Homo sapiens: one gene and its partner. The protein of the gene in region 1 purifies or fractionates together with the protein of each later gene. This does not show direct contact. Each region holds a gene or a part of one and is shown on either strand. Other genes may lie near its edges.

Evidence for each region. Proteins that work in one complex are often made in the same cells at the same time.
Region 2: the proteins of MTCH1 (region 1) and ZYG11B purify together in Homo sapiens (affinity purification with mass spectrometry; one large-scale study listed by BioGRID and IntAct). This does not show direct contact.

The regions. Positions count from the first base shown.
Region 1 is NC_000006.12:36,972,679-36,976,332, forward strand, and holds part of MTCH1 (mitochondrial carrier homolog 1), read right to left. Parts: intron 3,040-3,654; coding exon 2,980-3,039; intron 119-2,979; coding exon 1-118.
Region 2 is NC_000001.11:52,767,823-52,771,476, forward strand, and holds part of ZYG11B (protein zyg-11 homolog B), read left to right. Parts: intron 1-3,197; coding exon 3,198-3,654. UniProt on the Homo sapiens protein: Serves as substrate adapter subunit in the E3 ubiquitin ligase complex ZYG11B-CUL2-Elongin BC. Acts to target substrates bearing N-terminal degrons for proteasomal degradation with the first four residues of substrates being the key recognition elements.

The sequences.
Region 1 (3,654 bases):
CAGCCCCCCTGGGGTGTCACTCACGCTGTCATCCACCAGGTAGGCATTGATGAAGTGGGCCAGCAGGTTACAGCCCCACAAGAAAACCACATCGCCCAGGAGGTGAGGGATTAATCCACTAAAAAACAAGGTAAGCAGAGATGAGCAGGAGAGGGAGAGGAGCAGTTCCTGGGGGCTCCACACCCAGGAAGCAGGCAGGGATGTTCCGAGCTCAAAATCTTAGCATATCCAATGGCACAGCCTTAGAAAGGAGGCCTGCAGGGTCCAGCAGCTATGCACACTGGGAAGATAGTGCTCCTTTTCCCATGGGGAGGTGTTCTATGCCGCTTTGGATGCCATAAATTAGCTAATAGTCTCAAGCAGTTTTCAAACCACAGAAGCCAGGGATCAAGATGTGAATACTGCCAAATTTGGAATTTCCAAATGCAGATAATAAGAGTGCCGACGTGTTGGTAATTTTCTCCTGGCCTCTTTACCTAACCAACTCTCAGAAGACACACTGCTCAATGCATCTGTTCTCTTTGCCCCTGAAAATATTCTATCAAAAAGATTCTATGCAAGCATTTACAAGGAGGGCTAACTTTTTAAGTGATGGCCTTTAGGATAAACAGCTCTATAAACTGCTAAGGAAGGTTCCCCAAGATGCAGTGCTGAGGGCAAAAGGCCAGTTTGAGGTCAGTGAGTCCCATGTGCCTCTTGTGTTTTTTACAATGTGTTTGCTTGTTTAGGTACAGAGTGCCCTGGGAGGCTCGCCAGGAGAAGGATGGCTGTCTCCTGGGAGGAGAAGCAGAATTTTTGTTTTTGAATTAAAAAAAAAAATCTTATATTTGAAAAACTCAAAAGAATATATGTAATACATCTATGAAGAGTATTAATAAAAGGAACCTCTGTGAATGCAATTTCTAATCTTGTCGTCCCTGCCTGTGCTCAGATTGACTTTGTGCTATACCCTTTGGTGCTTTCTATGCACTGTAACATGTATGAGTATCACCTGTTCCAAAATCACATGGGGAGAAAGAACCCAAAGAGTAGGCATCTGTTGTGCGGGAATCCTATTCAAACACCAGAAGAGAACTACGCAGTGTGAAAAATGCCAGAGGTGGTCATGTGCAGTGTTTCAAGATGGGTGGCTGTTTCTGTAGAGCAGCCATTGGCTGGGGTCCCGGGGCTGCCCCTTTGGCAGGGCACATGGTCCCTGAGGGCCACAGATGCCCTGCACTTTGTCACCTCACATCCAACTTACTTCACCTCTAAAGAAAGCACATACTGAAAAGACTATGTTCAGAAAGAATAAAGCACAGACAGAACCCAGAAGCCAGGCTTGATGAGTTGTTTTTTGACTTGCTGTTTTAAGGTCTAGGCGGTGACATACATGCTGATAGGTATGTCACAAATGTTGGTTTGTTACCAGGTACATGTGCAAATATATGTATGTATAAATACTTACACATACATATATGTGTGTGTGTGAATATAAATCAGAGTTTCTCAACCTTGGCACTATTGACATTTTGGGCTGAATAATTTTTTTTTTCCCCAAGAGACAGGGTCTCACTCTATCACCCAGGCTGGAGTGCAGTGGTGCAATCATAGCTCACTGCAGTCTCCAACTCCTGGGCTCAAGCCATCCTCCCACCTCAGCCTCCCGGGTAGCTAGGACTACAGGTGCATGCCGCCACGGCCAACTAATTTTTAAAAACATTTTTGTAGAGACAGAAGTCTCACTATGTTGCTCAGGCTGGTCTTGAACTCCTGGCCTCAAGTAATCCTCCCGCCTTGGTCTCCTGACAGCTGCAGAAACCACTGAGACTAATCCCAACTAACTGGGATCACAGATGCAAGCAACGACACCTGACTGAATAAGTCTTTGTTGCGGGGCTGTCCTGTGTACTGTAGGATGTTTAGCAGCGTCTCTGGCCTCTACCCACTAGATGCCAGTTGTGACAACCACAAGATGTCTCCGGACACTGCCGATGTTCCCCGGGGAGCAAAATCACCTCCTGCTGAGAACCGTATATATATTTCTATATCATATACACACACATGCACCTACAAGTAGTCACTAATTGGTTAAACAAGGGGCCATAAATAAAAAACATCTCACAAACCGGAAAACCATGATATAAAGACTTCTTATGAATAATATGGAGCCCTGTATCTAGTACAGCGGATACTGTTGTATACCATGTGTCTACCACGTTTGTGACATACTTATCAGCATGTATGTCACTGCCTAGACCTTAAAACGGCAAATCAAAATACAACTCATCAAGCCTGGCTTCTGTCTGCACCTTATTCTTTCTGAACTTAGTCTTTTCAGTATGTGCTTTCTTTAGAGGTGAAGTACACTGGATGTGACGTGACGAAGTACAGGGTGTCTGCGGCCCTCGGAGACCATGTGCCCTGCCAAAGAAGCAGGTCCTGGGTCCTGGCCGATGGATGCTCTACAGAAAGAACCGCTCAGCAGGACAAGATTTTCTGGCTTTTCAAGAGATGCCAGACATGTGGATTTTTGTGCAACATATCTTAAATGTTAACGGCAACAACTAATTTGTCAGAAAAGCAATGTCAAACAGAATCCACTGGCTGTGGTCAGCCTGTGAGCTTCCAGAGCTCCACCCTCAGTCCAAGTCAGATTTTCAGTCATGTTTTAGCAGTGAGGCCAAGGACTATGCAGTGACTTAGCTCATGAAGACCAGCCCCACACCCACCACAACTGGATGAGGCCCAGTGGGGCTGGTCAGTTCATCTCCCCCATGTACTAGACACACAGTTCCACTTTTACATGAGCCATGGCCTGAAAAGGGCTAAGCAGCTTGGACACGCTATGGAGCTCTGGAGAGCTGGCTGCAGCACTCAGGCTAGGGCAGGGCCATGTAGTGAAGTCCCAGGCCAGCAGCTGCGGTCTGAGAGGTTGAGGACACACCTGTTAGCAGAGCCATGCCCGTGGCCAGTTATGGGGTGTATAAACTCACGTACACGAAGAATCCCAGCAGCCCTTCCTCTTTGAAAATCTTCCCAATGGAGCTCAGCACACCACTGTGAAGAAGGCAAGACAGAGATACAGGGTCATGCAGTCACCTACCAGAAGCCCACCCGTTGGTGTGGGGCTGAGCCCACCAGTTCTGCTCAAATCCAGCCAGTCCTGGCAGGGATGGGGAGGACTATTACCATGAAGAACCAAGTAGAAAGGCAAAGAGCGCTTGTTCAGGGTGAGGAGGAGTTTACACAGTTCATGGAGACTGGGGAAGCCCAACCACCCATGGGAGCAGCCCACTAGCAGTCCTCTACTGGTGTTTTCTGGGAGATAGGAGTTTAGGAATGCATCTCCTAACTTGGGCCACTGCTGCAGAGGCGGCAGGCCCTTCTCTTACCCGGCCCTCACACTTATCTCTGGTTAAACAACCCTCTAGCAGAGGAGCCCACAGGCCCGCCCAAGAGTAAGAGTAGGAGGGGGTAGTAAGCAAAGAGAAGTACTTTCCCAGAGGGCAGAGAAAGAATACAGGGCCCTGCAGGAGGAGGCACTGGAACCAGCCTAGGAGAAGACATCTGGCACTCCTCAGCAGGGAGCCGGGGACTCATGCCCTGGCCACTGCACCCTGTTAGAGATGAGAGGACAAGCTGGATGAGAGGACAGGCTGTGGGTTCTTGGGT
Region 2 (3,654 bases), on another chromosome or scaffold:
CCTGACTTTCCACTAGACTTCCTATGACAGCACCCCAGCAGGGAAGCAGGTAGAGAACTTCATCGCTGCTTGATGAGTGTTGAAGTTCAGGCTCCCCAGAAGGTATCTACTAACATCGTGGTGGGGGATAGTTCTTACTACCCAGCAGGAATGAAAGTCCTTGCTCTCTACTCAGACTTCTCTAACACCTCCCCTGTGGGCAGATTGGGGCAAGTAATTACAGCCTGGCAGGGGTAGAAATCTAGGCCCCTATTGGCATTTGCTGGCATGGGTGGAGCTGCAGTTTTTTCTGTCGTGTTTGGCTGAAGTAGAGCAGTTACTGTCTACTAGCTGTTTCCTGTCTTACTAGTTGCTGCTTTCCTGGTACGTTGGCTAGAGAGAGCAGATTTTGGGGGAGGTTTTTGTCTGTGCCCATTGGTGTTTCCAGGCTGCTGGCTCCTTCAACTTTAGATCTGGGATATATGACCAGAAAAAAACCAGGAACTTTTCTGCGTTGTTCCATGGGTCCCAAGGTCCCCCCTAGCTGATCTGCTTTCATCTCTTCACCTTTCAGAGTGATCTAGCTCCAGCTCACCTTCAGCCTCATTTCTTCTGTCCCATTTGCATGCTTATATCCCCAGAAATGCACTGCATCTATGGCTCTAGCTATTTCTTATGTTCAAGCAATATAGAAAGAACTACTTGCCATTTCCTAACCCCGTGATATGCTTTCACATCTTTAAGACTTTGCTTATGTTGTATATTCTTGCTTTAATATACCTAACCTTCTTCCTCTTTTTTTTTTTTTTTTGAAATGGAGTCTTGCTCTGACGCCCAGGCTGGAGTGCAGTGGCGCCATCTCGGCTCACTGCAGCCTCCGCCTCCCAAGTTCGAGTGATTCTCTGCCTCAACCTCCCAAGTAGCTGGTATTACAGGCGCGCACCACCACACCCATTTAATTTTTGCATTTTTAGTAGAAACGCGGTTTTGCCACGTTGGCCAGGCTGGTCTCGAATTCCTGGCCTCAGGTGATCCATCCGCCTCGGCCTCCCAAAATGCTGGCATTATAGGCATGAGCCACTGCACCTGGCCTACTAACCTCCTTTCTCTATCTTTGAATTCTTCCAGCATTTTCAAAGGCCTTACTCAAAGATCACCTCTCCCATCAAATCTTTTCCAGATCTTCATTCATGATGGTTTACTTCCTTTTCTTTGTTTTTGTGATACTTTATACTTGACATTGATATACCATATATCTCATTTTGTTATGGCTGTTTGTGTCTTTTTTACTCCATGGGATTATGAATCCTTTGACTATAGGGGCATATCTTATTTTTCTTTGTATCTACAACATTTAGAGTACTTGACATATAGTAATTGTTTAATAAACTGTTTGCTGAATGGACCCCATCATGAAATTTACTCTCCTGAAATAGAGTGCAGGTAATTTGAAAGGCTGTCTCTAGAACTACATTGTTTAATCGAAATGTAATTTTAAATTTACCGGTGGCCACATAAAAAAATAAAAAGAAAAACAAGTGCAACGAGTTTTAATAATTTTTATTTAACCCAATATATTAAAAAATGATCATTTCAACCTGTAGTATATATAAAAAATTGAGATACTTTACATTATTTTGTTGTATTAAGTCTTCACAATCTGGTGTATATTTTGTACTTTATAGCTGACCTCACTTTGTACCACCTGCTTTCCAAGTGCTCTCCAGCTGTGTGGAGCTAGTGACTATGTATTGGGCAGCACAGCTCTAAAATGTAATGGAGTTCTTAATATGTAATTAGTCATTTTTGTCCACTTTGGCAGGTTTTGCACAGGCCTTTCTTGATTTTAACTGTGTAACTGTAATTAAGTCTGCAAAACTCATTAGAGAATAGTGCTCCCTTTTAAAAACACCTCATTTCTAATTTAAGGGTGACTGGCTGGCAGCCTAGCTGCATTTTGAGTATGGGCCAGCTAAGATGCCGCCTTAGAGTTCCTCTCATGACTTCAGGCTATTTATTTACCTGTCCTCAACTGCTCATTCACCCCATACTATTCTTAGACTACCTGTTTTTGGCATGATTGTTACTTCTTTCACAGTCAATGTTGTTTAGTTGATATGTGATATGTTGATGTGCCTCCAGAGTATCATATGCTTGTGACACTGTTGATTGGTAGACAGGTAGATCTCGAAGGCACTTCAAGAGGTTACTGTGTCGACTTCATTTACATTCATCTGCAGGAGGGGGAGTGTGGGGGGAAGCTGTAACTACTATATATATATATATATATATTTTTTTTTTTTTTTCAGAGACAGGTTCTCACTCTGTCACCCAGGCTGGTGTGCAATGGTGCAATCATAATTCACTATAACCACAAACTCCTGGGCTCAAATGATCCTTCCATCTCAGCCTCCCTAGTAGCTAGGACTATAGGCATGACCACTGTGCCCAACTCGTTTTCAGTTATTTTGCAGAGATGGGGTCTTGCTATGTTTCCCAGGCCTAGATCGCTTTAATAAGGTTTGAGATCTGGCTAGTGGTTTATTAATGAATTACAAGGCATTAAGTGCATGCTAAATATATTATGTGTATATGTGTTTGTATAATAATATGTTAAGGTGAATTTAAAGGATAGGCTAGAAATGTATTGGTAACAAATCAAATACCTTAACACAAGGTTTATACCTCACTTGTGGTACATAAACTCTGCAAGTCCATAGAGGATTCTGCTTCATGGTCACCCTAGGGTCCAAACTGATGGAGGGTTTCTCCTCATATAACTATACTCTCTAGAACGTGAAGTCTCCTCGTTTGTCATAGCAGGAAAAGACAGCATGGAAAATCATGCACTGGCTCTCAGGTGCTTCAACATATAGTGCATTGGCCAGAACTAGGCACATGGCTCCAGCTAACTCCAGGGATGGGCTGGGAAATGTAGTTGTCTGGTAAGGTAAGAACTAGATGTTAGTGGATATCAATAATGTCTGCCACAGTCCTGATTCTGCCACTTGCTAGCCCTGTGATCTTGGAAAGCCACTCTCTGAGCCCCAGTTTACTCATCTACAAGTTGTAAACAATAATAATCTCACCTAAATGAATTGTGATTATCAGACGAGATACTGTTACATGGGAGCGCTTTGGAAATGTAAAGTGTGATGGAAATTTTGGCTATTCTTTAACTGTTTTTTGAATTTAAAACGCTGCTTGTTTTTCCACAGGTCTATTGAATGATGGAACTGTGGGTATTTTTAGGGGCAACCAGATGCGCTTAAAGCGAGCCTGCATTCGCAAAGCAAAGATCTCTGCTGTTGCTTTCCGGAAAGCTTTCTGCCACCACAAGTTAGTGGAACTTGATGCCACAGGTGTGAATGCTGATATCACGATTACAGACATTATCAGTGGGCTTGGCAGTAACAAATGGATCCAGCAGAATCTCCAGTGCCTGGTGCTGAATTCATTAACTCTCTCCCTCGAGGATCCTTACGAGCGCTGCTTCAGCCGGCTTTCTGGCCTTCGAGCTTTAAGCATCACGAATGTTCTCTTTTACAATGAAGACCTGGCTGAAGTTGCCTCATTGCCAAGATTAGAGAGCTTGGATATTTCTAACACCTCAATCACAGACATCACTGCTCTACTGGCCTGCAAAGACCGACTCAAGTCTCTAACCATGCACCA